7 linked regions of the Homo sapiens genome follow. The protein of the gene in region 1 purifies or fractionates together with the protein of each later gene. This does not show direct contact. Each region holds a gene or a part of one and is shown in the gene's direction. Other genes may lie near its edges. The genes, in order: PDCD11, HERC5, DDX27, RMP64, PUM3, RBM28 and PKN2.

Region 1 (4,384 bases):
GCTGATGTTTTTGTTATTTTTGTTGTTGTTTTTTCAAGAGATGGGGAGAGATGATGTTTCACTCTGTTACTCAGGCTGGACTTAAACTCCTGGGCTCAGTCGATCCTCCCTCCTTAGCCTCCTGAGTAACTGGAACAACAGGCATGTTCCACTGTGTCTGACTGATCATTGCATTTTTACAGGGGTTCCTTGCCACATGTAATGGTCAGAATTTGCATTAGACTTCACAGTCTCACCTAGACTAGGCTGTGCTCCAAATGCTTGGGGAAAGGGAACTAACATTTGAGTGTGTGGCTTTAGGTCTGTATTATGTAATCTTTTCAACTGTACTGTGAAGCACTGATTGCAATTCCATGATGAGGAACAGTGTCTTGCTCTGTCGCCCAGGCTGAAGTGCAGTGTTGTGATCTCAGCTCACTGCAACCTCCACTTCTTGGTTCAAGCAATTCTCCTGTATCAGCCTCCCGAGTACCTGGGACTATAGGTGCGTGCTGCCATGCTCGGCTTAATTTTTTTGTATTTTTAGTGGAAAAAAAAATACAGCCTGTTGGCCAGGCTGGTCTTGAACTCCTAATCTCAAGTGATCTTCCCGCCTTGGCCTCCCAAAGTGTTGGGATTACTGGTGTGAGCCACTGTGCCTGGATTTTATATAATTTAGCTGAAACCACATAGCTTGTTATGGTGGAAAAGATGAGAATTTAACTTGGGTCTGTGTAACTCTGGTGTCCATTTTCATGCACTATTCTACATTGCTTCTCAAACTGGGGAACCCAGTGTTCATCCCAGTCAAGAGAGGGAGAACACAAGAGAGAAGAGACTTTGGGAACATGAAGGAGGCTTCTCAGACCTTGGGCAGAGGGAACATTGGCGGCCCCCCCCCTTTTTTTTTTTTTTTTAAGCAAGAATTAAAGGAACAATTGGGAGTGGGATGGGGTAGGGTGGAGTGAAGGAGTAACAAAGCAAGGTGAGTGATGACCTGAAATAGGAGGGAAAACTCAGATTGCTTCTTATTCTTTTGGGTCTTTGTGGGCTCCCCCTACCCGCTTCTAGATTTCTACTGAAGAGGGATCCACCAAAAGAAAAAAGAGCCAGAAGGGGCCAGCAAAAACAAAAAAGTTGAAAATCGAAAAGAGAGAAAGCAGCAAGTCCGCAAGAGAGAAGTTTGAAATCCTTAGTGTTGAGGTTTGTTAAAGTTGGTTTTCATTTAAACAATCGACCTTGGTTGCTTAAGTTTGTGTATGTTCTTTTTTTCTTCTTTCCTTCTTTTTTCCCTTAATTCCATTTTCCCCTTAATATATTATATTTCATGCGTGTGTGTGTAGAGATGCTTGGAATTTATGCTAAGGAGTAAGCATGATTTCCTTCCATTGCTAACCGATGCCAGGAATCTTTTCTTTTTCTTTGTATTTATTTATTATTTTCCAGAGACAGGCCTGACTCTGTTGCTCAGGCTGGAATGCAGGCATGATCATAGCTCACTTTAGTCTTGAACTCCTGGGCTCAAGCAATCTTCCTGCCTCAGCTTCTCCTGAGAAATTGGGACTACTAAAGGTGTGTGTCACCATGCCCAGCTAATTTTTAAATCTTTTGTAGGGCTTGGATCTTGCTATTTTGCCCAGGTTGGTCTCGAACTCCTGTGCTCAAGCAATCCTCCTGCCTCAACCTCCCGAAGTGTTGGGATTATAGACATGAGCTACCCACCGTGCCTGCCCCCTTTTTTTCCTTTAAAGCTGTCGTGGGCTTGTTTGTGTCCTCACAGGACTTGAGTTCTGATATATTCAGAGGTTAGAATGGACAGTAACTTTAGCAGTCATTCTCATCTTACCCATTCATTTCATAGATGTGAAACCCATTTCCAAGAATTGAAGTGGTCTGTGTTCCTTACATTTTTATTTTTTATTTTTTAATTTTGAAATTATTTTATTTTATTTATTTATTTATTTTGAGACGGAATCTCTCTCTGTTGCGCAGTCTGGAGTGCAGTGATGTGATCTCAGCTCACTGCAACCTCTGCCTCCCGGGTTCAAGCGATTCTCCTGCCTCAGCCTCCTGAGTAGCTGGGATTACAGGTGTCTCACCACGCCTGGCTAATTTTTGTATTTTTAATAGAGACGGGGTTTCACCATGTTGGTCAGGCTGGTCTGGAACTCCTGACCTCGTGATCTGCCTGCCTTGGCCTCCCAAAGTGCTGGAATCACAGGCGTGAGCCACCGCGGCCAGCCTGCCTTACATTTTTAGATGATAACACCAATATGTGTTAGTTATAAAAAAGAAAAGAAGTTAAATAACTTTGAAGAGGAACATTCATATTTGGCTAGATTCAGAGTCAATATTTTGTCCTATATGATACTTTAAAAAAATTGTTAGACTTGGTGCCAACATTAGAAAACTAAAATTTTTTTTTTTTTTGAGACGGAGTCTCGCACAGTCGCCCAGGCTGGAGTGCCGTGGTGCCATCTCTGCTCTGCTCACTGCAAGCTCCGCCTCCCGGGTTCTCGCCATTCTCCTGCCTCAGCCTCCTGAGTAGCTGGGACTACAGGCGCCCGCCACCACGCCCAGCTAAGTTTTTGTATTTTTGGTAGAGACGGGGCTTTACCATGTTAGCCAGGATGGTCTCAATATCCTGACCTTGTAATCTGCCCGCCTCCGCCTCCCAAAGTGCTGGGATTACAGGCGTGAGCCACTGCACCTGGCTGAAAACTAAAAATTTTTTTACATGAAAATATGATTTCTGGCTTCTTGTAAAAATTTGAAAGTACTGATAGCAGAAGGCCCGTATTCCCTCATGTTTGTAATGACAAGGAGCTGAGTAGTGGTTGTGTCCTTTAGACCTGGCATGGTCACTCCAGACTGCCATTGTCTCCACTAGCTGGCTTCCTTCATTGTGTTGTCTGCCAGGCATTTGAGTTTGGGTTGCTCAGAATAATGTAAAAGGCAAAGGTGTCCTCCAGTATCCCAGTGCTGTTAACACTGTTGTATAATCTAGACCTTTTACAGTGCTCGGTCAGATATTTGAGAAGTTCACTGATATGTACACATGTGTATTTCTTTTCATTTATAAAATTCCTGTAGGTTTTTATTTTTTATTTATTTTTATTTTTTTATTTTCGAGACAGAGTTTCACTCTTGTTGCCCAGGCTGGAGTGCAGTGGCATGATCTCAGTTCATTGCAACCTCCACCTCCCAGGTTCAGGTGATTCTCCTGCCTCAGCCTCCTGAGTAGCTGGAATTACAGGCACCTGCCACCATGCCCGGCTAATTTTTGTATTTTTAGTAGAGACGGGGTTTTGCCGTGTTGGCCAGGCTGCTCTCGAACTCCTGACCTCAGGTGATCCACCCGCCTCAGCCTCCCAAAGTGCTGGGACTACAGGCATGAGCCACTGTACCCGGCCTATTTTTTATCTTTATTTTTTGAGATAGGGTGTCACTTTGTTGCCAAGGCTGGAGTGCAGTGGTGTGATCACAGCTCACTGCAGACTCAACCTCCTGGCTCAAGCGATCCACTCACCTCCGAGTACCTGCGACTACAGGCGTGTACCACTATGCCTGGCTAATCTTTTTTTTTGGAGAAACTACGTTGCCCAGGCTGGTCTGAAACTCCTGAGCCCAGGCAGTCCTCCTGCCTTGGCCACCCAAAGTATTGGAATTATAGGGCGTAAGCCACTGTGCTTGGCCTTATAGCTTTTAAATTGACACTAGAAGCCAGACCTTCCAACCTTCCCTATTGTTGTTCCCATCCTTATTGTACACATTTCACTTTTTCTCTTCTAGTCCCTGTGTGAGGGAATGCGTATTTTGGGTTGCGTGAAAGAGGTGAATGAACTGGAACTGGTGATTAGTCTCCCCAATGGCCTCCAGGGCTTTGTGCAAGTCACTGAAATCTGTGATGCCTACACCAAAAAGCTGAATGAGCAGGTGACACAAGAACAACCTCTGAAGGTAAGGGAAATCCGAATGAAGCCTGTTATTGAAAATAAGTGGAACACAAATAGATTTAAAATTACAACTTTGCCAGGTGCTAAGAAGGGAAAGTACAAGGTCCCGTGAGAGTTTATCATAAAGGAATTTTTGACTAAGTCTGGGAGCCTGGAAGACTGTTGAGGAAGGGATGCTTAAGCTGAGATCTAAAGAATGAGGGTTCCCTAGATAAAGAAGGAAAGGCGTTCAGGCAGAAGCAATGTAATATATAACAGAGAGAAGGCTAGTATGGCTAGGTAAGGAGAGCAAGAGAGAGTGTGATGTGAGATGGGCAGGAGAGCCTGAATGGGGGCCAGGGCACATGCAGCCTTGTAGACCATTTTAAGGGTTGTTTTTAAATTCTAGAATCAATGGGAAGTCCTTGAAATGTTCTCACTGGGGTACAGCATAACGTGTAGATTGAAGA
Region 2 (4,384 bases), on another chromosome or scaffold:
ATGCATATTTTTTCTTAATTAAAACATAGTATTTAAAAAATAATTTTAGATGTACTGAATGTGATGCAGTAAATTGAAAGTTTTTTCTTGAGCTTCATTTCTAATTAAATACTATTAATAGTTCTAAAATCCATGTTGTAACTTTCATTATGGTGATTAACACAAAGTGTATTTTCCTTCATCAGGTTTGAAAGCATTTTACAAGAAAAAAAAATAATTCAGATCACATGTGGAGATTACCATTCTCTTGCACTCTCAAAAGGTAATTTTTCTGTAATATTAATAGTTTTGTAGAAGTAATACCTGTGTGTATATGTGGAGCCAGTAGAATGTCTATATTTCACTTGTAACAGGACAGAAATACAGTTTTGAATTTGATATGGTTCCGAGTACGATTCTTAAAGTAAATACATAATGAGAGAATTCTTGGATCTGTAAAATGTTCAGGTTTCCAAAATTACTATTCCTAAATTTGGTTTCATGTTTTTATTTTTCAAGTACGAAACAGTGAAAATTTTCTGAATAATCAAAACTGTTTTCTCTACATCTGATCCAGGCCTGGGGCCACCCTTTTCCAGAAACTGCTTCCCTTTTCCTAACACCTTTCCAACTTCCACTCTTCCGGCTCAGAATCCCCTTTTGTGGCCAGGCTGCAGACCTCTGATACGTTTTAACATTGCTTTTGAATTCAAGGATCTCCCTAGCCCTGTAGTATTTCCCATTTTCTATCAGACACTGTCATGGTGGGAAATGGAAGCAGTGAATATGAATTATTTCCTAAAGAAACTTGACTATGAGGCCAGGCTTGGTGGCTAATGCCTATAATCCCAGCACTTTGGGAGGCTGAGGTGGGAGGATCACTTGTAGCCAGGAGTTTGAGACCAGCCTGGACAACATGGGGAGACTTCATCTTTACAAAAAAACTTAAAAATTAGCTGGGCATGGTGGCTTCCACCTGTAGTCCCAGCTACTTGGGAGGGTGAGGCAGGAGGATCCCTTGAGCCCAGGAGTTTGAGGCTGCAGTGAGCCATGATCGTGCCACTGCACTACAGCCTGGGTAACTGAGCGAGACCCTGTCTCAAAAAAAAAGAAACTTACTGTGAATGGAATAATTAAGATAGAAGTAGGGTAATAGAGGGGAATTCGAAGTCAAGGGAATTTTTGTTAATATATAGGACAGATGTAAACATGTTCATAAACTGAATAGAATCTGGGATTCAAGGGAAGTTAATAATTAGTGAGTATTTGACCTTCATTGCAAGGCCTGTTGAGATTTGATAGTATGAACTTGTATTGGAAGAAATTGATCATTTGACTTCATTCATTCATGAACAAATATTTCATATTATCTACTGTGTTCGGATTATGAAGATGAAACACACAAGCCCTGCCTTTAAGAAGCCCAGGGTCTAGAGGCGTGTATGTACAAGGGTAAAGGGATATTCAGAGTTTATTACTAGTAAATCACAGTACAGAAAGAATAAAAGTTGGGGAAGCAAGAAAAGAAACTGGTCATGCTCATCATTATATTCCTGGTGGTTGACAGGTGCATGAAAATTGTGTGTGAAGGAGAGGCTCTGCTTCCCACCACATCCTGCACAATATCTTGCAAAGAGATTCCAGTAAACCTTAATTCTCTGGTGTATTTTTTTAGACTCTATTAGATATTGTCAGCTCTATCAGATAACATCTAAGAACGCTCCCTAAAAAATGTGCTCCATATATTCAGTTAATGGAAGAAGAAACTGACTCGTTCAAGAAACTGTAATTTGAAATTAATTTTACAGTTGTTTATTTGGGATCTTGTAATTTCAAATGAATTTTACAGTTGTTTATTTGGGATCATTAGGCACATGAGAGAAAACAGTAGCGCTGGGGTTTTTCATAGAGGTAGATTGCTTCTGTTTTTCATGGGCCCGTCCTCTGAGTGTTTTAAAGTAAATATTTCTTGAATTTGATTTATAATCAAATTTATTATGTTGAAGATATTATTTAATATGTTCAAATAGCTTCACTTTTGAAGTGAGGGATAAGGAAGTGTAACTGTCACTGCTAAAGAGAAGATTCTGTGTTTTTCTGTGGCAGACATAGGGTAACTGAGAGTACCATCAGTGCAAAGGTACAATATTGTGATATTATACTAGGTAGAGCATGCATAATGCTTTAGGGTAATGTCTGCTGCATTTTAAATGGAATAAAACAGCATTTGCTTTGTTTATGTCAAGGTGGTGAGCTTTTTGCCTGGGGACAGAACCTGCATGGGCAGCTTGGAGTTGGAAGGAAATTTCCCTCAACCACCACACCACAGATTGTGGAGCACCTCGCAGGAGTACCCTTGGCTCAGATTTCTGCCGGAGAAGCCCACAGCATGGCCTTATCCATGTCTGGCAACATTTATTCATGGGGAAAAAATGAATGTGGACAACTAGGCCTGGGCCACACTGAGAGTATGGAACACATTCTCAGATTCCTATTACCAACAGATATACTTGTTAGATGAATTTAATGGACCTCCCTGTCAAAAATGGTTCAAATCTTCACTTTCATTTTCACTGCTCTTCCTGATTACCTCTCTGTCTTCAGGGCAGAATCAGTCCAAGAGGCATACATAGTGTGGAAGTTGTTACTGTAATTGAGACATGTTTCAGGGCTGTGTGTGAGACGGGAAAGGGCATTGAATTAGGGATGAGAACCTGGATTCTGATTCCCACTTTGCAGTTTACTAACTGCAAGCCTTGCCCAGTCACTAAACTTTTCTCTAGACCTCATTTTCTTTTTCTGTCAAGTGACAAGTTTGGATGAGATGACCTTTAAAGCCTTTGCACTTAAAGTCTGTTAGTGTATTATTACAAAAGAATACTAAAATTATATTTAAGAACTCACATATCCTGATCTTATTCTATAAGGTATCAATTATGTCTGTAAACACACATGAAGAAACATGTAATTTCCATTATTGAACAAAGCTGATGGTGAAATTTCTCATGATCCCAAACAACTCATTAAGAGTTTTCAGGTGTAAGAAATTCTGCTGCTTTACCCAGCTGTGGTACTGTATGCATTACCCTGGATCACTGGTTACTCATTTCTCCCTGACACAGTGCAATGGTCATTACACAGAATAGCCCATAAGTCAGTGTTAGAAAAATATTCAAAGGAGAGAAGAGAATAAAGCGGCCATTAAACTACTTTGGCTGAATCTCTGAGTGCTTTTGACATGAAAATAATCATGAAGAAAAGAAGAGGTAGTGTCAGGTGATGACACTAGTAGATAATTTGAAAGAAAGGAATTGCTATGTTCATTAAAAGTAATTCTAGATGGCTGTTGGAAATATCTAATGTGCTGCAATTAAAGTGAATCAAGTCATAACTGAGAACAGGCTTTGGGAAGTGGTTTGACCCTTTCACAGGTGGGTGCCCCTAAGTGTGATCCTTTTGGCCACTGGTCCCACCTTCACCCTGAGGCGTAGAACTTGATCCTAAACATGGCAACATAGAGCCTTTCTTGTCAGAATATCATGAGAACTGTTGTCGCTGGGTTGAGAAGCAGCAGTCCAGGTAACTCCACTGTGAAACTCAGCATTTCCTTTTGGTCACTTCAGCTATTTTTTTCCTTACATAGGTAAAGATGATCCATCCCTTATTGAAGGACTAGACAATCAGAAAGTTGAATTTGTCGCTTGTGGTGGCTCTCACAGTGCCCTACTCACACAGGTGGGTGTACCCTTGTCTCTTTTTGGCTGTATTTTTAGAAGAACAGTTTGTATGGGAAGTTAGTGTTTCCCAGAGAAGAAAGGTCATCACTTCCTGTATGTAGGACTGTCCTTCTGATATTTAGGAGCTTTACTTTGACAGTGCTATTTATTAGTGATTCACTTTGCATCAGTGAATACTACTTTTTTATTTTATTTTTCTAGCATCTGATATGACATTCCCTTTCCTTAGGATGGGCTGCTGTTTACTTTCGGTGCTGGAAAACATGGGCAACTTGGTCATAATTCAACACAGAATGAGCTAAGACCCTGTTTGGTGGCTGAGCTTGTTGGGTATAGAGTGACTCAGATAGCATGTGGAAGGTAAGTTGTAAAGTATCAATAAGAATTGATAAAATGAGTGCAGCAAACTAGATAGTAATTTAATAAAATTTCTTTCAGTTTCTTTGAGATGTATCAAACATTTTCAAATCAGTGAAAATGCTTAATTTATATTATTTAGATAAATGTAATACCCCTTTTACTATACATGGTTGTTTTCTTTGATTTTTTTTTTTTTTTTTTTTTTTAAATGAGCAGATACAATTCACTTTCTGCTGTCTCCTTAGTGAAATACCTTTGTAACTATTCAGGTGCACTTTTGTCTTAAAAAAACAAGTCATTAATTGTTT
Region 3 (4,384 bases), on another chromosome or scaffold:
TCACATTTAGAATCTATCCCTATTTTTTTTTTTTTTTGAGACGGAGTCTCGCTCTGTCGCCCAGGCTGGAGTGCAGTGGCGCAATCTTGGCTTACTGCAAGCTCCGCCTCCCAGGTTCACGCCATTCTCCTGCCTCAGCCTCCCAAGTAGCTGGGACTACAGGCGCCCGCCACCATGCCTGGCTAATTTTTTGTATTTTTAGTAGAGACGGGGTTTCACCGTGTTAGCGAGGATGGTCTCGATCTCCTGACCTCGTGATCTGCCCACCTCGGCCTCCCAAAGTGCTGGGATTACAGGCGTGAGCCACCGTGCCCAGCCTCTATCCCCATTTTAATGCCCTGTTCTGTCCTCTGCTGGCTCAGGCTCTTGTGGAGCATTATTAGGGGAGGGTGTCTGGATGAACAGCTGTTTGTGACTGTTTCTAGGCGTTTTAAGGATGAACAGATTGACATCCTCGTGGCCACTGATGTGGCAGCCCGTGGACTTGACATTGAGGGGGTCAAAACGGTGAGCAGACACTATCTTCCTTGGACTTTTGGTGGAAGTCTTTTTGCCTCTTCGCACCCCCCTTCCCTTGCCAGGCCTGACGTTCATTTTTGACCTTCTAGGTAATCAACTTCACAATGCCTAATACCATCAAACATTATGTCCACCGGGTGGGGCGAACAGCACGTGCTGGCAGGGCTGGGCGCTCAGTCTCTCTGGTGGGAGAAGATGAGCGGAAGATGCTGAAGGAGATTGTAAAAGCTGCCAAGGCCCCTGTGAAGGCCAGGATACTTCCCCAAGGTGAGCAGGCACCCCTGTGGCAGTGCAGAATGGCTCGGTGGGCGGGGCAAGGACAGAGTGTAATGGCTGAGAGCAGGTACTTTGCAGTTCAGAGCCAGATTTGAATTCCAGCCCTGCTGCTTCCTTGCCGAGTGACCATGTGCAGGTTTCACCTCACCTCTCTGAGCTTGCCTCCTGTGTGTAGAAGGGAATTATGACAGAATTGTAAACACAGTGCCCCATTTAGGTGGAAATTGAGAAGAGAAGGTTGCTTGGGGCAAAATTCTCACTAAACTCCTCTTTCCCTTACTGTTGGTGGTGGGGAAGAGAGAGATCAGTACTCATTCTTTTTGGGTCCTTTCATTGATTTTGTTCCTCTGATCTGTGGGGGTCTTATAAAGCACATCCTCTTTAAAGTCTTTTTTTGTTTTGTTTTGTTCTTGAATTCCTAGGCTCAAGCAATCCACCCACCTTCTGCCTCCCAAAGTGCCGGGATTAACAGTAATGAGCCACCATGCCCAGCCTTAAAAATTTTTAAAGTTATAAAAATAATACATATTTAGCCTGAGCATGGTAGCTCTTGCCTATAACCCAGCACTTTGGGAGGCCAAGGCAGGAGGATTGCTAGAGGCCAGGAGTTCAAGACCAACCTGAGCAATATAGTGAGCTGCCTGTCTCTAAAAAAAAAAAATTAGCTGGGCATGGTGGTGTGTGCCTGTAGTCCCAGCTATTCAGAAGGCTGAGGCAGGAGATCTCTTAAATCCAGGAGGTTGAGGCTGCAGTGAGCTATGATTGTGCCACTGCACTGCAGCCTGGGCAAAAGTGCAAGACCCTGTCTCTAAAAAATGAAATGAAAAGTACGTATTTATTGTTGGAAATTAGTAAATAAAAAAAAATGTAATTCTGTGTCAAAGAGCTCACCACTGGTAGCATTTAGGTGTATGTCTTTTCAAACCATTTTTCCTTTCTTAAATGTCCCTTTTATTTTTTTCATTTTCATTGTCTTCATTTAATCAGCGACTAGTTATTGAGTCCTGCTGTGGGCCTAGTGCTATTGATTCTGTTCTAGGTGCTGGGGATACAGCAGGGAACAAAGCAGAGCTGTGGTTCTGGGAGAAAGAGACAATAAATAAGCTAACAGTAGATGTGATTGAGAACAGCAGGAGGAGACTGCCTCATTAAGCTGTTAAGGAAAGGCCTCTGCACAGCTGGCATTGGAGCTGAGTCCTGGGTGATCGGAATGAGGCAGCCATGAGAGGTCTGAGGGCAAAGTGCTGAGCTGAGAGAACAAGGGTGGAGGCTGTGAGGTAGGAACGAGCTTAGTGTGTGAGAACAAGAGAAAGGTCAGGAGGCTCAGGCGTGGTGAGCAGGGACACACAGAAGATCAGAGCGGTAGGCAGGGGCCACTCTGAGTCTGGGGGATATGAAGCAGAGAAGGCACACATTACAGACACCATTTCCTATGTCAGTAAATGCACAGCTAAATTATTTTCATCAGTTACACAGTATTAGTAGTCACCCTTATTTTATTTTATTTAATTTATTTTTGAGATGGAGTCTTGCTCTGTTGCCAGGCTGGAGTGCAGTGGTGCGATCTCGGCCCATTGCAACCTCTGCGTCCCGGGTTCAAGTGATCCTCCTGCCTCAGCCTCCCAAGTAGCTGGGACTACAGGTGCATGCCACCACGCCCAGCTAATTTTTATATTTTTAGTACAGGTGGGGTTTCACCATGTTGTCCAGGATGGTCTCGATCTCTTGACCTCGTGATCCACCCGCCTTGGCCTCCCAAAGTGCTGGGATTACAGGCTTGAGCCACTGCCTTATTTTGTTTAAGATAAGGTCTTGCTTTGTTGCCCAGGCTGGGGTACAGGGGTGCGATCATAGCTTACTGTTGCCTCGAACTCCTGGGTTCAAGCAGTTCTTCTCCTCAGCCTCCTGAGTAGGTGGGACTACAGGTGTGTGCCACCATGATGGCTAATTTTTTTTTTTTTTTTAGATGGAGTCTCGCTCTTTTGCCCAGGCTGGAGTGTAGTGGTGTCATCTTGGCTTACTGCAGCCTCCGCCTCGTGGGTTCAAGCAGTTCTCCTGCCTCAGCCTTCTGAGTAGTAGCTGGGATTACAGGCGTGTGCCCCCACACCCAGCTGATTTTTGTATTTTTAATAGAGACGGGGTTTCACAGCATTGGCCAAGCTGGTCTCAAACTCCTGACCTCAGGTGATCCACCTGCCTTGGCCTCCCAAAGCGTGGGATTACAGGCATGAGCCACTGTGCCTGGCTTTTTTTTTTTTTTTTTTTTTTTTTGTAGAGACAGAGTCTGGCCACGTTGCCCAGGCTGGCCTCAAATTCCTGGGCTCAAGCAATCCTCCCACCTCAATCTCCCAGAGTGCCGGGTTACAGGTGTGAGCCACCATGCCTGGCCTACCCTTATTTGTAAATCCTTTTTATTTTCTCCCATTGAGATGTCATCCTCAAATTCCGGGACAAGATTGAGAAAATGGAGAAAGATGTGTATGCAGTTCTGCAGCTAGAGGCGGAGGAAAAAGAGATGCAGCAGTCAGAAGCCCAGGTGAGGCTGCGAGGCGGGATCTTGTTCACAAGGCTGCTCAGTAAGCAAGCTGCTGCATCCCTGCTGGTGCTGCCCTTCTGAAATGTTTCTCCCATCAGAGCCCCAGGCATTTGCAGCCCGTGGCTTCCTGTGTTAGTAGATACGGGTTTCACGGCAGGCATCCTTTTGTTATCTCTACAGATCAATACAGCAAAGCGGCTCCTGGAGAAGGGGAAGGAGGCAGTGGTCCAAGAGCCCGAGAGGAGCTGGTTCCAGACCAAAGAAGAGAGGAAGAAGGAGAAAAGTAAGTCAGGGAGGTTCCGCAGAAATCTAAATACAGAATTACCCCACAGGACTCAGCAGTTCCATTTCCTAGTTCTATACTGTAAAGCAGCGGTCCCCAACCTTTCGGCACCAAGGACCAGTATCGTGGAAGACAATGTTTCCACATTTGGGGTGTGGGGGTTGCATTAGATTCTCATAAGGAGTGCACACCCTAGATCCCTCGCATGCGCACTTCACAATAGGGTTAGTGCTCTTATGAGAATCTAATGCTGCTGCTGATCTGACAGGAGGCCAAGCACAGGTGGCAATGCTTGGTTGCCCAATGCTCACGTCCTGCTGTGCAGCCTGGTTCCTAATACGCCATGGACTGGAACCGGTATGCAGCCTGGGGTTGGGGACCACTGTTGTAAAGGATGTAAACAGGGACTCAAACAGATACTTAGATGCCAGTGCTCTTTGAATTACTGTTCATAATAGCAAAAAGGTGGAAACAAACTATGTTCATCAACAAGTGAATGGATAAACAAAATTTGGGGTGTGTGTTTATATACACACAATGGAATATTATTCAGCCATGAAGTTCTGATACATGCCATAAGGATGAACCTTGAAAATCTTAAGCTGAATGAAATAATCCAGACACAAAGGGACAAATACTGTCTGATTTCACTTACCTGAGATATCTAGCTAGGCAAATTCACAGAGACAGAAATAGATTATAGATTACTTAGGGCTAGGGGAAGGGGGGTTATAGGAAATTATTAGTGGTTGCAGAGCTTCTGTTTTCAA
Region 4 (4,384 bases), on another chromosome or scaffold:
TCGCTGAAGAGCCAAACCTTAGATGCAGAAACAGATGTGTTATGTGCAGTCCTTTACAGCAATCACAACAGAATGGGCCGCCACAAACCCCATTTGGCCCTCAAACAGGTGAGGAAGCCCGGTAGGTGAGACCCAACCTGTTCACTTGAAAATGTAGATCACACTGCCACTTACTATATTGCTATTTATGGAAATCTCGTGGAAATCTCAGTAAATTACTTGTGTTTTATAGGCCTATAGCCCACAGTTACATGTGCACTTTCTTTTTTTTTCCTAAAAGCATTTCAGCATTTCAAAAAGTAATTTTTGTTAGAAAAGAAGTATGTTTAGATTCTTTCCCAGTCTTGTTTCTAATAGGCAAGTAAACATTTTCTTCATTATATACAATCTATAACAACAGTGCCTTTGCCCAGCTCAAAGATAAAGTGATTTGAGCAAGACAAAATGTTGGACATTAAGAAACAGTTCCCTGGGCATAATCAGAATGCTAAAATTATTTTTAAAAAAACTTGTCTACTTATTATGGGGTACATAATCTAATTGGTGGTATGTTAGAGTAAATGGGTACATAGCAAGTTGTGGTGTAAACTGGTTTCATGTAATGTTTGGAGCTTAAGACAAAATTGGGCCCTCCAGCTCAGGGGCTATACCATAGAGTAGAGCCTCTCTTAAGCTGGCTTCCTGATATGCTCATTCATTCATTCACTTAATTCTGCAAGTATTTTCTGGAAGTTCAGAAGGCTATCCATTGTGTGACAGGGCTACCTTGCAAGTGTTTTTGAACTTTCTGTGTGCCAGGCATTCTGCTTAGTGCTGTGTATAGAGGAGTGAAAAAGGTAGACACAGTCTCTAACCTTATAGATGCATGCTTTCTGGTTAGTTTTCTACCCCTAGTACTTAAAGCAAACAGGGTGAAGATTTCATCAAAGAAAGATCTGGGACCATGGTCTTTCCCTAAATTTTCCATTCTAGGGTGGCTTTTATCTTTTTCGGAGTCTTTTTGATCCAAAAGCAAGCTTGCTAACCCTCAAAGTGAATATATTTCTCCTTCTAGCTTCTGGGTTGTGAATAATCACCCCGTCATCAAAATTTGGCATTCTCTAGTCTCTCTCTCTTACGTAGCTCTCCCATCCAGGCAGTCCATAAGACAAAACTTCCTCTGCATCTGGTCCCCTCTTCAGTTCTGGCTGCCATTTTCCTTTCTTAGACCTTGTCAACTTTTAGTTGTCTTACTATCATAACTGATGTTTCCTCCTTCAGCTTTTCCTAAGTTCTGGCATATTCTAAATATTAAAACCAGGTTAATCATCTGAAAACACAACTTTGATTTTTAGTCGTTCTCCATTGTGTCCTGAGTAAAGACCAAACTTCTTAGTTTGGCTTACGAGATCTGTGATCTGGCCTCTTCAGTCTTCTTAGTTCGGGCTTCTCTCTTGCGTTCAGATAGATTATATTCCAGCCAACCTGGACTCAACACACCTGCATGCTCACTATGTTTGTTCCTGCTTCTGAGTCTGCTTACCTGGTCCTGTATGTTTAGAATGCCCAGCCTCACCATGTCTGCCTGTTAAAGGCCTTCCTATCCTCTAAGTCCCATTTTAAGCCTTTCTGGCAGTGATAATCTGTGTTATAGTAATCTCATTTTAAGTTGTATTTTTCTGATTATTACTGAAGTTGCTTTTTTTTTTTTTTTTTTAAATTCTTGGCTATTTGGGCCTCCTCTTTGTACTTATAGCATTTAATATAGTCTGTGTCATGGTAAAGTTATTTGTGTATATATTTTATATTCCATGTGATCCCTGAAGTAGGAAACATGTTTTATGCTTATGTTACTGCTGCAGCTGCTATTACCACTTCTACTACTGCCTTACAACTGCTTAATATTTCACAGTTTTCAGAGAACTTTCATGTAAGTACTAGAATTGGCCTGTCTCTAAACATTCCCCTAAATGGAACACAGAAAGTAGTTTTGATTCCTGTTCTGTGGAGTACATGTAGGGCATGCTGGCAGATAAAGTGGTATTAGAAACTTCCCTATCTCTAGTTGCTAAAAATCTAGTAGTAAAAATAGGAAGACATGTAAAATATTTAATTAAATGCTAAAATAAAAACAGACCCTATTTAAAATTGCAATCTTCTCAGCACTCCCTCTCTGCCTTATTTGTCTTCATAGCACTTAACACCACCTGCCATTGATTGACTGCCTTTCTCTCCCAGCTATAATGTAAGCTCCACAAGGGCAATGTATTTTGTCCCTTTTGTTTACCACCATAATCCAGTTCTTAGAACAGTGTTCAGTAAGCACTCAATAGGATTTTTAATTTTTTTTAAAAAAAGTAAGAGCCATGCATGGTACAAAATGCTGTAGGAATTCTGTAGTCCTCAGGAATAACACACAAAGGGCAGCATGGGACTGCATCTAGACAGATACAAAAATTTGGATGGGCATTGATACTGGCAACAAGAGTATCTTGCCAGAGCTGCAAATATACTTCTAGAAATTGAACCAAGGTTATGGATTCTGTTTTAACAGCGGTTTTCAAGAATAATGGAGGGAACAATCCTTAAATTCTTTAGGGTCAGCTCCTATCTTTTTCAGTTTTCAAGTCTGGACACCATCCTTTGAGGGAGGTATTGACAAACCCAGATGGTAAAGCACTTGGAAAACATAGTAAGTGAACTGCGGTTCAAAAGAGAAAAAAAACCCAAGAGAGAGAAGGGAGAAAGAGAGAAGATGCAGAGGAACATAAGAACAAGCTTCATCTAATCAAAGAATATATTTGTTCAGTGATTAAAGCCAATCGTTTTCCTCATCTCTGTGGTACTTTATAGACTGTTGAAATTTAGTAGTTAATAATTTTCTATCTTGTTTTAATAGTTTCACTATTAAAAATCATGTTGTCGGCCAGGCGCGGTGGCTCATGCCTGTAATCCCAGCACTTTGGGAGGCCGAGGTGGGCGGATCACAAGGTCCAGATCGAGACCATCCTGGCAAACACGGTGAAACCCCGTCTCTACTAAAAATACAAAAAATTAGCCTGGCGTGGTGGCGGGTGCCTGTAGTCCCAGCTGCTTGGAAGGCTGAGGCAGGAGAATGGTGTGAACCCAGGAGGTGGAGCTTGCAGTGAGCCGAGATCACGCCACTGCACTGCAGCCTGGGCGACAGAGTGAGACTCCATCTGAAAAAAAAAAAAAAAATCTTGTCTTAGCAAAATTATAATCTTGAGAATAACCTATACTCGTTTTGGTCCCTTTTATGACATCAAGCTCATTGTGGCATATACTAATTTCTTAGGAGTCACCTGATTTTAAAAATGTGTTTGGCTGGATAAATTCCAAATTTGTAACTAGAAGCAATTGCTTGCGCTTTGGATTTCTCTACCCTGAAAAAAAATAAGGTATTCTGTGATATTTAGCATATTTCCATACTTTGAAAATCTAGAAGTCTTTGCTTTCCTGGTCATAATCAGTGACCCTGTCTGCATTACATACACATGAATTTGAACTGCTCTTCTTCTTTCAGGTTGAGCAATGTTTAAAGCGTTTGAAAAACATGAATTTGGAGGGCTCAATTCAAGACCTGTTTGAGTTGTTTTCTTCCAAGTAAGTAAGTGGTCCAGTTGCTTTGTGATGTGGTGGGCTGGGAACTCAATGTCTTGTGATCTCCCTTTGGATTTCTCTATGCTTGCTGTTGGAATATAACCAATTATACCTCAGCTGTATAAATTTTGTTTTAATGTGGGGTACCTGGTGTTTGTGGTAATCTTCTGACATTGATCTATGGGAGTGACTGGTGTGACATTGAAATCTGGGTCATGGTAGATTATATTAAAACATCAGTGGGCTGTTATTGTGCTTAACTACCTCAAGTTGAGCTTAAAGCAAGTCTTCACTTGAAAACTGCTATAGAAATGCTTTATATTTAAAAATGAAAGTAATGGGAGCTTGCACATAGCTGAAAATGTGAAGGGTCGCCCAGGGAGGACATGGAAGCTCTGTGCTTCTTCTGCCATACCTTGCCCTATGCATCTCTTTGTTTCAATCCTTTGTCATATCCTTTATAATAAACTGGTAAATGTAAAAAAAAAAAAAACAAAAAAAAAACCCTTTTTTTTTAAGTGAAAGTAATGTACTTTTTCTATTTTTTTCAAGTGAAAATCAGCCCTTAACTACCAAAGTATGTGTTGTCCCCAGTCAGCCAGTGGTGGAGTTGGTGTTGATGAAGGTTTTGGGAGCCTGCAAGTTGTTGCTCCGCTTGTTGGACTGCTGCTGCAAAACTTTTCTGTATCCTTGAATATCTTGAAATATACCTTCTTTTGATTTGGAATTGTTTGGATATTTTTAACAGTATTTTTGTTTGAAAGCTAACACTCCATAGGAGTTA
Region 5 (4,384 bases), on another chromosome or scaffold:
AGCAGATGCTTGTGTTGTTTTTAGAGAGTATCATCTTAAATACAATTATCGAAATTAATGTAAAATTATGGTACTGCCTTCATTCCTAAAAAGATACATGAGAAATGTCCTGCAAATCTCCTTGAAATTTATGACTTTGATGGAGGTATACCCTCACCTTCTGATTTGTTGGCATTCAAAAGTTTTAAAGACAGAGTGAGCAACAGATAAGCACTTTTGAAGTAGACTGGTATTGTAGCATAGTAAAAATAATTTTACATGATGGATGATTTGTGAATGTTTATCTTGAACCTCTGGAAGAAGAGAAATAGAATAATTAACTTATAATTAGCCACCAGTATTAAGAGGGTGGAGACTGGGGAGGGACAGGTGAGTAAACTGATAGAGGGTCAGTGGGTTAGAAAATGTCAACATGGGAGAATTTCCTAAATTAAGTGGAATTAGTACTTGTCTTGACCAATCTTTTTGAGTGTATTAATGTGCTAGAATATGATAATCAACAACAAAAAGTGTAATATATGCAGTTGACAAAATTTTCAAAAATGTATTCCTAGCTGTAGTTTCCAGCTGTTTAATTCTTTTAGGATATAGTTAAAATACTTGTGATTAAGTCCCATCTTCAAAAGGAATCTTAGAATATGATTTTCTATTTCCTTGAATCTTTTATCTTTTTTCCTGCCCTACTGTTTTTTTCGAGCAGAACAGTTTAATAGGAAATGACATTTATTGAGCATTTACTATGTGCTGGCCACAGCTTCTCAATGCATGCTAGCTCATTTACTCCTCAGAGTGACACAGATTGATGAGTTGGTCTTGGGAGAAGTAAGTTGTGTTTTATTGTCACCCAGCTTTCTCCTTCTATCATTTATTTTTCCATGATTGTGTTGCGTTTAGAAGTAAACCACAGATTGCAGAGATAATCAGAAGTTTTAAAGGCCACGTGAGGAAGATGCTGCGGCATGCGGAAGCATCAGCCATCGTGGAGTACGCATACAATGACAAAGCCATTTTGGAGCAGAGGAACATGCTGACGGAAGAGCTCTATGGGAACACATTTCAGCTTTACAAGGTGACATCTCCAGAAGTCTTTTTCTAGTATTTTTACTTTTCGATATGCTCTTCCTTAACTTCCGGTGCCCTATATATCTTTTGAATGTATTTTTACTGTGGCTGGTTCTTTAAGAGACCATCTTATGCCCTTGATTTTCCCTCATGCTTTATTTTGTTTCTGGTATAGTGAGCAAGTTTCTCTTTCTCCAGAGCATTGGCTTTAAATCCCCTTCAATTCAAACTTTGTTCCTCTCCTGAGTGCTCTGTGTGTAGCACTTCAATACTTCTATTTTTACAGTCATACTGAAGGACAAGACTCCCAATAGTTAGCAAAGTTGTGTGACCACCCCCAACCAGCTCTGGCTGAAGTGTATTGGGCTCTCTGTTGCTAGCTTCTCCTGTGTTTTTTCATGTGCATGCATTGCCCTTCTTCAGATTGTGTCTGGAGATGAAGGGGAACAGAGAGACCTAACCTTGGATAGAGTACAGGGATTGAATCTGAGAATAGTTAGCAGTGGGACTAGCTGGTTAAAGAATCTATTTCAAACCTTGGAACATAAATGCACACATGTGTCTGAAGGGATATGGATTGATTCCCGGGTTGCCTCCATTAGCCAGGTTCAATTCTTGGGTTGAATTTGTTGCTGTACTAATTTTGTTAACAGTTCGTTATATTTAATAGGAATAGCCAACTAATTATAAAACATATGGTGGCAAGAATTTGTGAAGTGACTACTTGATCTCATAATTGGGCAAGAGCTAGGTGCTTGGCAAGTAACTGTTAGCTGGTTAACTTGGTTGGCCTGGCTCTTTAAATGCACTGATAGATACACAGACTGAGAATCAGCTAATCAGGTTACTCCACAAGGATATACAGCAGAGCTTTCATTATGTAAATATGGGAAATCTTAAATTTGTTAAAACTTATTTTAAAATGACTAATTACTTTTCTTTTTCCTGAAGTGAAAAAATTGATTAAATTTAGAGGGGTTTGATTGTTTTGTTTTGTTGCAGTCAGCAGATCACCGAACTCTGGACAAAGTGTTAGAGGTACAGCCAGAAAAATTAGAACTTATTATGGATGAAATGAAACAGATTCTAACTCCAATGGCCCAAAAGTAAGAAAGTTGTTTTTGTTTTGTTCTTAAGAAATGACATTCAAAGGAGGAAGGTTTTCCATAACTGTTGCCCAGAAGAGGTAGCTATTTCCTGCTTACAAGTATTAATCTATTCTAAATAAGAGTGCAAAAGTGTTGGTTTGAAACCATTCTTGGTGCAAAAGGAGATTTCTTTTTCTGATATTGTACCCTATAAAATGATAACTAACATGCATTCGTGATTTATGAGCTTTTTTAAGCAATGAAACATTCTTTCCCCAAATAAAATGTTACATGGAAGCCATGTATACTAAACAGTTTCACAAATATAATCTGTTACTCAAATTTGGTTGTAGGCAAGGTACAGTGGCTCACGCCTATAATTCTAGCACTTTGGGGAACCAAGCTGGGAGAATCACTTGAGGCCAGGAGTTCAAGACCATCTGGGGCAATAGCAAGACCCCATCTCTACGAAAAAATAAGAAAATTAGCCAGGCTTTATGGCATGTGTGTATAGTCTTGGCTACTTGGGAGGCTGAGAGGCAGGAGGCTCACTGGAGCCCAGGAGGTCATGGCTGCAGTGAGCCATGGTTGTGCCACTGCATTCCAGCCTAGGCAACAGAGTGAGACCTTGCTTTAAAAAAATAAAAAAAAATTAAAAAATGGATTGTAAGACTTGGAAGCCTGTGCATGTGCCCTTCATGGCATCTGTCCAGTAGTGGAGTGGCTGAGCATAGCTTTTGGGACCCGACTGCCTGGGTACGACTCCTGGTTCCCCACTCCCCCAACTATTACTAACTGCAATCTTTGGCAACTTAACCTCCCTGTGCCTCAATTACCATATTTGTAAAATTGGGATAATAATAGTACAGACTTCATAGGAATTTTGTGAAGATTAAATGGGTTGGTTGTTCCAAAACACTCAGAACAGTGCTTTGCCCATAAAGGCAGTGTTAGTTTTTGCTGTCTACTTGGGTATCACCTGTGAACTTTAGGTCTTTTATGCCTGACCATCGGCCTCCACTGTACACCTGGATCCACCAAGTGTCACACTAGGGGGTTTGGATTAAGTAGGTGTTGTTGCAATTGCTGACAATGTTTGGTTCATTCAAGTTTTAATTCTGCTAAAATTATTTTGTGAAACAGATGGATTGTGAAGGGTGTTAACAGAAATAAAACAACTATTAAAAAAATACATCCACATGTGGATTTCTAATCATTATGTCCAGTGCTGGGGGAAAAAATGTAGATGTCCTTATTTAATAGAGCAGAGCATATTTCAAATGTTGATTTTATGTTTGCCGATTAAATACTAGAAGTTTATACTCTGGTCTTGGTTGTAGATGGCACTAAATCAATTTTACCATCTAAATTTTTGTTTAAGTTTTAGTATTTCTGAAAAATACAGTCTATTTTATGACAAATTGTATTCAGTAAAACCATTTCACTTGTTTAGATTACTTTAGGACTTTGAGATTACCTGTCTTTGTATGACTGTAGTGCCAGATCTGTTGTGTCTTTTTGCTTTTTTTTTCTGTTTTCAGGGAAGCTGTGATTAAGCACTCATTGGTGCATAAAGTATTCTTGGACTTTTTTACCTATGCACCCCCCAAACTCAGATCAGTAAGTTCTTGGTTTTTGTTTTTAAACTAAAACATGGAGGAGGAGCGGTGTAGAAATTTGAAAAACTGCTTTGATGTACGTTGTCTTGTGGAAATTTTAGAGTTGCTTCCTTATTTAGGGAAGATAATTTACTCAACTCCCTTTGAACACGTTTGCTAATTCCATTTAGGTTTTATTCCAGTAAACAATAGAATTGACCCTAGTTTTACTAATCATATTAAATTTTTATATCTTAATTATAATCCAGAGAGTATCCGCTGGCTAACCTAATCTGAAAATTAACTAACTCGTGGAGGAATATTCAAGCATTCGGATAGTTTTAAATTCAACTGTGCTAATACAAAAAAAAAATTAGCTTGGCATTAAAAGGTTAGAGGAGGATATGTTTGTAAAACTAAGTGGACGATGAAAACCTGGACTTTATATCATAGAAGAACAGAGTGAAGGTAAATTGCACTGCCCTTCAAGTCAGTCATGGGAATACAAATGAGAATTCATCATTTAGTTCCCTGAACTTTGCTTGCCTCATCATACAGTGAGCTCATTGTCCATTTGTCCTCATTTTCCAATCACAAGGGATAATGAAAATAATGAGACTGACTTAACAAATAACG
Region 6 (4,384 bases), on another chromosome or scaffold:
CCAGGGCATTGTGACCCCTTCCTCTAAGTCCCCGGCACACTCGCTGATTGGTACCCTCTCATTCGACAAAGCATATGCCATTGTGGCTTACTTGTCATTTCTTTAGGTCTTGCCTTCCCAAGTAGATCATGAGCCACTATAAGAACTAGCTCCCATAGTCCCAGCCCCTGGGCCTGGTACATGGCAATGCTTAGTGATTGGTGATTGAGGATAATGGTGGTAAAGGATGTACCAGACAGTCATCTCCTGAAGAGATGCCGAACAACCTGTCCTTGTTTTATGTATTTTCTCTTTCTTTCCTGTCCAGTTTTATTCCTCTCATAGTAACTGCTAAAAAAATATCAGTTCCTGTCACTCTTCCACCCCTTTTCTCCCTCTCCCCTGCATTGTGGTCTGGGCCTTGGTCCACTAGCAACTCCCCTTAGGTGTTGCTTAATCTGCCTCATGGCCAAAGCCAATCCCATTCCTGTCCCCCGCTACCCAAGGGACTCCCAGTCTGTATGCACAAGGCGGGATGTGAAGTCTGGATGTGCAAGAAACCCAGCTGTAAGAAACAGCTTCCCTCGGCTTGGCATGGTGGCTCATGCCTATATTCCCAGCACTTTGAGAGGTCAAAGTGGGAGAATCACTTGAGCCCAGGAGTTCAGGACTAGCCTGGGCAACATAGCAAGATCCCACCTCTACAAAAAAAGAAAAAATTCAGAGTCTCAAATGTCCCTTCATCTCCTTACTCTCGACCTGTCTCCCTAGTTCTCTGCCGCCTTTTCCTCTCCCCTGGATCTGACACTCAATTGTCTGCATGCACTTTTCAACTGAAAGAGACTCCAATGCCATCCTTCTGATGAAATTTTTGCTTTGGATACTACTGCAGAAAAAATGCTATCTTGTATTCTGGTCCATGGTGGGGAAGACCCTGTCGTAGAACCTGGCAACTCAAGTGGAGGGAGGGGCCAGAACATTGTTCTTATGCTATTTACAGTGAGACAACAGGATTGATGCAGAACTTTCTTTTTTTTTTTTTTTTTTTGAGACAGAGTTTCATTCTTGTTGCCCAGGGCTGGAGTGCAGTGGCATGATCTCAGCTCACTGCAACCTCCACCCCCCAGGTTCAAGCAGTTCTTCCTCAGCCTCCGGAGTAGCTGGGATTACAGGCGTGCGCCACCACGCCCCACTAATTTTTGTATTTTTGGTAGAGACGGGGTTTCACCAGTGTTGGCCAGGCTGGTCTCGAACTCCTGACCTCAGGTGATCCACCCACCTCGGCCTCCCAAAGTGCTGGGATTACAGGCATGAACCACCGTGCCCGGCCGTGATGCGCAACTTTCTAATAACATACTTTTGAAAGTGCCCAGACATACATCCCTCCTCTGGTACCACAGTGGCCATCAGTTGCCAGAGAACATGAAATTATCCAGCCCTCAGCTCTGCAGCAGGATTCTGAGGAGTAAAGCAGGCCTGTAAAGTACTCTAAAGTACTTCAGAGAGGTAATGCCACAAAGCGAAGAACACCTCTTGGAGGCAGAGCCCCTCAGCCCTATCCAGGCCAGCAGTGTCCACTTGAAATCTGAAAGCAGCCTCCCTCACCAAACCAGCAAGATGGAAAACCTCCCTGGGTTGGCAAGTGGCCCTGGGAAGTACATGCCCCATCTCTGTCAGGATAGCAGTGGAGAGGTTTCGTGCCAGTGCCAGCTCCACCCACCCAGATGGTACTCAAGACTCCAAGCCTGTCAATGGGGTGGAAACTTTCTGGCATTTTCTGTCAGAAGGGTGAGTTAGCACTGAACCATCTCATGTGTCTTTTCACTGAGTAACAGCCCATATCCATTCCATGAAATGAGTGACTGCTTTGTTGAATCAGATAGTAACAAACATTTATTTGTAGTCTGGTTGTGTCATATCATGGTTGAATTGCAAACAGGTTGGATAGAAGAGTCAGCAAAAATCAACAAAAGCATTCTGTAAAAAACTTTTCTAGAATTACAATAAATGGCATTGTATATTTTATTTATAAATTATGTGCTGCACATCATTTTTATCAATGAAATTTATAATAAATTTCTGTACATATATACATTTTTATCCCAGAGAGCCAGTTGTTAAGCATTTACCAGCAATAAATGCTTTTTGTTTCCTGCTTACACAGGTTCTGGGAGTGGCCAGCCCACTCTTTGAGATGTCCCCACTTGCTTTTTTAGTTGTCCAAGTAGTGTTCTGCCCAGCCTTCCCGACTCTCTTTCTTATCCTTCCCTCGAAACTATTCTGTTCCTTATGCTTAAATACTTTCCAGTCATGGGAGCTTTGCTGTAGGCCCTTGGCCTTTCATGGGTAGCTTCTGATACGTGCATGGGTGTTAATAGAGGAAGTTGACCCCGCCTGGGAAGAATAATGACCTATGGAGACCTGGCCCTTTCTCTTATGGCTTCTTAAAGTGACAGCTGTTATGGGAAGTTCAGGCATCTTGACGTGGAAAATACATTGTTCATTTTCTTTTAATTTTTTTTCCCCTAACCACTATACCAACAGGGATGGAAAGATACTTTTAGTTGGAAGGAATTTGGAGCCCTTAAACGACACCTGGAGCAGCTGCCTGTGGGTGGGGCTTTGCACAGTCTCATCCTGGCAAGGGAGGACGAGCCAAGGACCAGTTTTGCAGAATTGTCATCATGAGGCCCTGGTTGTGTGCTGGGCTGGGGCATTGCCCCTTTCCAGGAGGCCAGGCCAAGCAGGGCTGCCTGGCTTAGGCTTTTGCATCTTCAGCATCCTTTCACGTCTCTTATCTCAGGTGACCTTCACAGCAAGCCTGGTGAAGGTTATTGAGAAGCAGATGTCACCACCTAGTCTTAGAGCTGATGAAAGCAGGATGTGGGGAAGTCCAGACCCTCTCCTGAAACCCCTTGGCCACCTGAGCTAGTACCAGAGCAAGGTCCCACTTGGCCGTGAGTGCTGTCTCTAGGGCCTATTTCAGGAACTGTCTCATATATAAGAACAGAACACTTTTTGCCAGCTATACCAAATGTTTTTGGGATTAAAAAAATAGTTTCTCTTTTCCAAATTAGGTGGTAAGAAAAGGAAGGGCATTTTCATTCTCACATTCTTTGAATGTTGAAACGTTTTAAAAACTTCCAGCTGGGCTTGGTGGCTCATACCTGTAACCCCAGCACTATGGGAGGCTGAGATGGGAGGATCCCTTGAGGCCAGGAGTTCAGGACCAGCCTGGGCAACATAGTAAAACTGCCCAAAATTTGAAAATTAGCCTTGTGTGGTGGTGTGCACTGTAGTCCCAGCTGCTCGGGAGGCTGGGGCAGGAGGATTGCTTGAGCCCAGGAGTTTGAGGCTGCAGTGAGCTATGGTTGTACCACTGTACTCCAACCTGGGCAACAGCGTGATACCCTGTCTAAAAAAATAATAAAAATAAAAAAGGATTAAACCCTTTACTTGACCAGCTTCTTTTCCTGCTACCCCTGGACTAACTAATCATTACATATTTTTGTAGTTGTTTTTTCTTTCTTTCTCTCTCCTGATCTACCACAAGCCAAATGTACTCATATACATACTAATAGGTGAAAAAAGAGAGTCTGAGGAGTGAATACATTTATTTTGTGATTTCCTAGGCAGTAGCTAGGACTCCCTTAGAGGTTGCTAATAGGGAAAGGGTGCGCTGGCTCTACTCAGTTTTATAACTGCTTTTCCCCGAATTCTGCAGACATCTTCATTCCCCTGGAGGTCAGATAATGGCTATTTATTTTCCATAGCCATGAAAATCTCTGGGGAGAGCTGTGGCAATTTGACGAGAGCTATTAAAGGGACATTAGGATTGAAGTAGCTGCTCAGGCAGTCACATACCCTCGATCCTCATCTGCAGGGACAGCTGCCAGAACGAATGAGCCCAGCTCTCCTGCCCGCAGCCAGCCGCGTGTGGGTGCAACTGGCGACCAGCCACTGGAGTGAGTCCCAGGGAAGGGGACAGGTTCTTAGAATCACCATTTGTCTCTGCTCTCTCCCTCTCTGCAATAGGACGGGCACTCTAAACTCACATAATGGTTAATAACAACAGCTAACAATTACTGAGCACCTACTATGTGTCAGGCATGTGCTGAGGATGATCGCATCAAGTAAAATGCCTGTCTCTGGCCCAGAGGCCCAGAAGAAGAGAAAGAAGGGAAATCTGTAGGAGGCAAACAGTCCCTTACCCCTCTGCTTGCAGACCTTCAGTGACAGGACACTCCCTGTTTGCTCCAAGCACCTCTTGCATTTTCAGAGCTTGGGACACAGATTCAGGGACTTGCACTTCGATAGAGTGCCTCAGGACCCCTCGTCGGAGCCATGGAAAGTCAGTTTCTGGGCCCATCCTTCCTGTGGGGGTGTCTTTCCTTCTCTTGGCCAC
Region 7 (4,384 bases), on another chromosome or scaffold:
TTTATTTTATTTTTAAATCAAGATGAGCTTTGAAGAGGAACTTTTCTACTTTCTACATAAAACTTTAATGTAGAGTATAGAATTCTAGGAAAGCTAGCTTAAGGTCTGTGAGGTGACTTATCCCAAATCTCAGATCTGTAACATACTTTATAAATTTTAATTTTTTTTTTTTTTTGAGACAGGGTCTCGCTCTGTTGCCCAGGCTGGAGTGTAGTGGCATGATCTTGGCTCACTGCAACCTCCACCTCCTGGGTTTAAGTGATTCTCATGCCTTAGCCTCCCAAGTAGCTGGGACCACAGGTGCGTGCACCACGCCCGGCTAACTTTTGTATTTTTAGTAGAAATGGGGTTTCACCATGTTGGCCGTTGCTAGTCTCGAACTCCTGACCTCAAGTGATTCACCCACGTCAACGTCCCAAAGTGCTGGGATTACAGGCATGAGCCACCTTGCCCAGCCTATAATGTACTTTAGTTTGAAGCATGGAATGAAGAGACAGAGGAAAGAGAAATTAGTCAATATGTTAGTTTTACCAGACTGGCTGGAATAAATAGCAAATGAGGTGATTGGACCTTCTCTTATTCACAATAAGACAAAATCTTACCATTTTAGCCAGTGTAAAAGTGTAATAAGAACTTTTAACAAGTATTAATTCTGTCTCTAGCGTATGTGCATCTTGCATCTTCCTGATGCATAACAAGTCTTCCTTGTAACAGTGGAAGAAAGCAGGAGAAAGTAGACCTCTCTTCCTCCAATCTAAAAAAATGGAGTCTAAATTACCAATCCTGACATGATTCTTCCTCCAGTTTATTTCACAAAATAACTGCTTCCAAAATACTTAACACTTTTAACTTCAATAGAATATTATAGCCTTAGTACCCCATCCCTTCTATATGCCATTTGCTAGTCTTAATTATATTCTCCTCATACTTCTTTCATGACAGTTCTCTCCCATATTAATTATGAGTCAGAGAGAAGAAATGAGGTGGAAGGCCCTGAGATCACATTCTCACTGCCATAGACGTATTTTTCTAATTCTTTTCCTGTTTGACTGTGAAACCCTCTGGCACATTGTATTTTGATTCTTTTCATGTTGCATTTTTTATAAGTGTTTTTCGTGTTCATTAACATCAACTAGATATATAATTTAAGGTCAATAGATTTTTTTTTACTGTTTATACCAAAACGTTACATAATGAAATGCATAAGTTTATAAATTGAAATTTGTTATATAAAATAAGTAATTTATTGCTTTGTAGAGCCTTAAAAGGAGAAACATTTATCTCTTTTTGTGGATGGTGTACAGAAGCCTGAAAAACAAAATAATAGAAAAGTCCAGTACTTTATGATTAAAATGTATATACGTTAAAACATATAGGTAGAGGTCAGTATATGGTTTGGCCACAGCTTAGGAACTATGTTCTACAGGTGCATTTAAACACTGGTTATTAAAACCTTAAATATATTTCGCCACATAAGCATTATTTTCAGTGTCTACTGTGTATTCTCTCATACGGCTTTGGTATAATTAACTTGTCCCTGGTTTTTGAACATTCAAATTCTTGCTAATTTGCTTTTTAAATTATGTTTTATTGTTATAATAAATGAATATCTTTCTGTATAAAGCTTGGTCTGAATTTCCCCTTTCTTCCTTTCGTACGCAGAATGGGTCTTGCTACCCAGTGGTATTCTTTTGAAAATTAAATGACCTAATATTCTTAAAGTGCTTATTAGCACAATATGTGGCACATTGTGAGTACAGAATAAATGCTATTTGCAGAACTTTTTCTGGCTTAGCAATGAGACAAATAAATACAAAGGTTTCAAATGAGTTATTTGAAGCAAGCATTGGGGTAGTAACATAGCACATGATGGCAAATAGAGGAGGGAAATCTGAAAGATTGAAGCTCTAAGAGAAGGAGTTTCGGTGGTTATTCATCTGTATTGGTTGTTCCCAGTTGTGTATTCTTTAAGTATACTTTAGGAATACCTTAGCTGGAAAATGTCACAATGTAAGTTTTGTTTCTTTGAATTAAAATGTGTAAGTTTGATAAAGTACTATACAGTTGAGAAATGTTACAAACCTCTTTAAAACAGTGTGACCTTTGTGTGTGTAATTTTTGTTTATTGTATTTGTATTTCATATTTTTTGTGATATTTTATTCAAGTGTGTGTCCAATGATGTCTTTTCTGTTTTCTTTATTATTTTTTTTAATTATCCTAGTCACGTGAACTGGAAATTTCAGTTTATTGGCGTGATTGGCGGTCTCTGTGTGCTGTAAAATTTCTGAGGTTAGAAGATTTTTTAGACAACCAACGGCATGGCATGTGTCTCTATTTGGAACCACAGGGTACTTTATTTGCAGAGGTAATAAATGTATTTTATTAAATGTGCATAACTACAATTGAAATTACATATGTAGGCAGCATAATATAGAAGTAGAAAGAGTGTTAGGCTGAAAGACAGATGACTTGAGTTCTTGGCTGAGCTATGCCACTGAATAGGTATGTGACTTTGAGACAAATCAATTATTCTTCCTATGTCTGTTTTCTCATGTAGAAAATGAGGGGCTGGACTAAACTGTAACTAAGATTCTCTTAAGCTTTAAAATTTTATAAATTTAGTAGATTTCATGAACCATGCTATTTTCATGTCAACTTGAATTTTCTTCACTGCAGGTTACCTTTTTTAATCCAGTTATTGAAAGAAGACCAAAACTTCAAAGACAAAAGAAAATTTTTTCAAAGCAACAAGGTAATTACTAACAATCAAATGCATAGCATTTTGATATTTTCTTAAACAATCTAATTACCATTTAAAAAGTAATAGCCATCTGTGTGGGTTTTTTTGTTGTTGTTTATTCATTTATTTCTAACTTCTTATTAAGGAATATTTTAAATGTATCCATAAGTGGAGAGACTAGTGAAATGTACAGTCACCCGGCTTCAACAATAATCAACTCATGGCCAATTTTATTTTATCCATATGCCATCCTCTCACTACTTTCTCAAATTTGAAGCAAACCCAGACATCATATTGATGTATTCATAATTATTATAATTTATATCTAAAAGATAAGATTTATTTTTAAAACCTTACTACTAGACTTAAAGAGAAAAAAACAATTTCTTACCTATTTATTTTTAAAACTACGTATGCTATTTTGCATTAGCCTTTACTAGCAAATAGTAAAAAACTAGTTTTTTTAAGTGACAAATTTTGTTTGTTCTTCGTAGATTATAAACTAATGGATAAGAATTTTTAAATTATGACTTTTGGTTATACATAAAGAAATTACTTGCTGTTTTTGTTTTTTTCAACATCTACAGGCAAAACATTTCTCAGAGCTCCTCAAATGAATATTAATATTGCCACTTGGGGAAGGCTAGTAAGAAGAGCTATTCCTACAGTAAATCATTCTGGCACCTTCAGCCCTCAAGCTCCTGTGCCTACTACAGTGCCAGTGGTTGATGTACGCATCCCTCAACTAGCACCTCCAGCTAGGTATGTGTCTGAGATTTTAAGCATCTCTTATACAAAGTTATTGGGACATTCTTACGTACTGATTATAGCAGGTGTACTGAGTCTTGCTTTTTTCCCAAGTAGTATTTTGAAAGTAGTGTTCTGTTTACTTAAAAAGTAAATTGTTTGCTTTAATTTTAAAGCTGTTTAAAATACAGACTTTCTATTACTGTTTTGGTGAGTTACTTTATCTTCTATAAGTGATTCTACAGTAACCAAATTGGACTTTGATCTTGAGCCTGAACCTCCTCCAGCCCCACCACGAGCTTCTTCTCTTGGAGAAATAGATGAATCTTCTGAATTAAGAGTTTTGGATATACCAGGACAGGCAAGCCATTTTAAACCTTGCATAATTCCTCTTCACTGAATGAATTAGCAATAAAAGCATCATAGTGAATAAGGCGTGTCTTTCCATTTAAAATTGCCACTGAACTGTGAATTTATGGTTTTTTGTTTGTTTTTTGTTTTTGTTTTTGTTTTTTGAGACAGAGTTTCACTCTTGTTACCCAGGCTGGAGTGCAATGGCATGATCTCGGCTCACTGCAACCTCCGCCTCCCGGATTCAAGCGATTCTCCTGCAAGCCATTCTCCTATCTCAGCCTCCTGAATAACTGGGGTTACAGGCACATGCCACCATGCCTGGCTAATTTTTGTATTTTCAGTAGAGATGGGATTTCATTATATTGGTCAGGCTGGTCTTAAACTCCTGACCTCGGGTGATCAGCCCGCCTCGGCCTTCCAAAGTGCTGGGATTACAGGCATGAGCCACTGCACCCAGCCGAATTTATGTTTCTTATGGTCTAGTCTCAGCTAAATTAGACTGAGTTGGTAGGAGACAACCAACTTCTTAATGTTGGCATGAA

What was found.
Region 2: the proteins of PDCD11 (region 1) and HERC5 purify together in Homo sapiens (affinity purification with mass spectrometry; one large-scale study listed by BioGRID and IntAct). This does not show direct contact.
Region 3: the proteins of PDCD11 (region 1) and DDX27 purify together in Homo sapiens (affinity purification with mass spectrometry; one large-scale study listed by BioGRID and IntAct). This does not show direct contact.
Region 4: the proteins of PDCD11 (region 1) and RMP64 purify together in Homo sapiens (affinity purification with mass spectrometry; one large-scale study listed by BioGRID and IntAct). This does not show direct contact.
Region 5: the proteins of PDCD11 (region 1) and PUM3 purify together in Homo sapiens (affinity purification with mass spectrometry; one large-scale study listed by BioGRID and IntAct). This does not show direct contact.
Region 6: the proteins of PDCD11 (region 1) and RBM28 purify together in Homo sapiens (affinity purification with mass spectrometry; one large-scale study listed by BioGRID and IntAct). This does not show direct contact.
Region 7: the proteins of PDCD11 (region 1) and PKN2 purify together in Homo sapiens (affinity purification with mass spectrometry; one large-scale study listed by BioGRID and IntAct). This does not show direct contact.

What each region holds. Positions count from the first base shown.
Region 1 is NC_000010.11:103,399,347-103,403,730, forward strand, and holds part of PDCD11 (protein RRP5 homolog), read left to right. Parts: intron 1-441; exon of another isoform or gene 442-484; intron 485-1,050; coding exon 1,051-1,182; intron 1,183-3,771; coding exon 3,772-3,939; intron 3,940-4,384. UniProt on the Homo sapiens protein: Essential for the generation of mature 18S rRNA, specifically necessary for cleavages at sites A0, 1 and 2 of the 47S precursor. Directly interacts with U3 snoRNA. Involved in the biogenesis of rRNA.
Region 2 is NC_000004.12:88,459,910-88,464,293, forward strand, and holds part of HERC5 (E3 ISG15--protein ligase HERC5), read left to right. Parts: intron 1-185; coding exon 186-262; intron 263-2,225; coding exon 2,226-2,447; intron 2,448-3,622; coding exon 3,623-3,714; intron 3,715-3,945; coding exon 3,946-4,076; intron 4,077-4,384.
Region 3 is NC_000020.11:49,235,725-49,240,108, forward strand, and holds part of DDX27 (probable ATP-dependent RNA helicase DDX27), read left to right. Parts: intron 1-425; coding exon 426-507; intron 508-608; coding exon 609-786; intron 787-3,224; coding exon 3,225-3,331; intron 3,332-3,511; coding exon 3,512-3,614; intron 3,615-4,384. UniProt on the Homo sapiens protein: Probable ATP-dependent RNA helicase. Component of the nucleolar ribosomal RNA (rRNA) processing machinery that regulates 3' end formation of ribosomal 47S rRNA.
Region 4 is NC_000003.12:113,013,172-113,017,555, reverse strand, and holds part of RMP64 (nucleolus and neural progenitor protein), read left to right. Parts: coding exon 1-108; intron 109-3,523; coding exon 3,524-3,603; exon of another isoform or gene 3,604-3,607; intron 3,608-4,152; coding exon 4,153-4,284; intron 4,285-4,384. UniProt on the Homo sapiens protein: May play a role in cortex development as part of the Notch signaling pathway. Downstream of Notch may repress the expression of proneural genes and inhibit neuronal differentiation thereby maintaining neural progenitors.
Region 5 is NC_000009.12:2,826,459-2,830,842, reverse strand, and holds part of PUM3 (pumilio homolog 3), read left to right. Parts: intron 1-894; coding exon 895-1,069; intron 1,070-2,064; coding exon 2,065-2,168; intron 2,169-3,691; coding exon 3,692-3,770; intron 3,771-4,384. UniProt on the Homo sapiens protein: Inhibits the poly(ADP-ribosyl)ation activity of PARP1 and the degradation of PARP1 by CASP3 following genotoxic stress. Binds to double-stranded RNA or DNA without sequence specificity. Involved in development of the eye and of primordial germ cells.
Region 6 is NC_000007.14:128,301,804-128,306,187, reverse strand, and holds part of RBM28 (RNA-binding protein 28), read left to right. Parts: 3' UTR 1-4,384. UniProt on the Homo sapiens protein: Nucleolar component of the spliceosomal ribonucleoprotein complexes.
Region 7 is NC_000001.11:88,802,169-88,806,552, forward strand, and holds part of PKN2 (serine/threonine-protein kinase N2), read left to right. Parts: exon of another isoform or gene 1-1,623; intron 1,624-2,222; coding exon 2,223-2,366; intron 2,367-2,677; coding exon 2,678-2,753; intron 2,754-3,328; coding exon 3,329-3,503; intron 3,504-3,722; coding exon 3,723-3,849; intron 3,850-4,384. UniProt on the Homo sapiens protein: PKC-related serine/threonine-protein kinase and Rho/Rac effector protein that participates in specific signal transduction responses in the cell.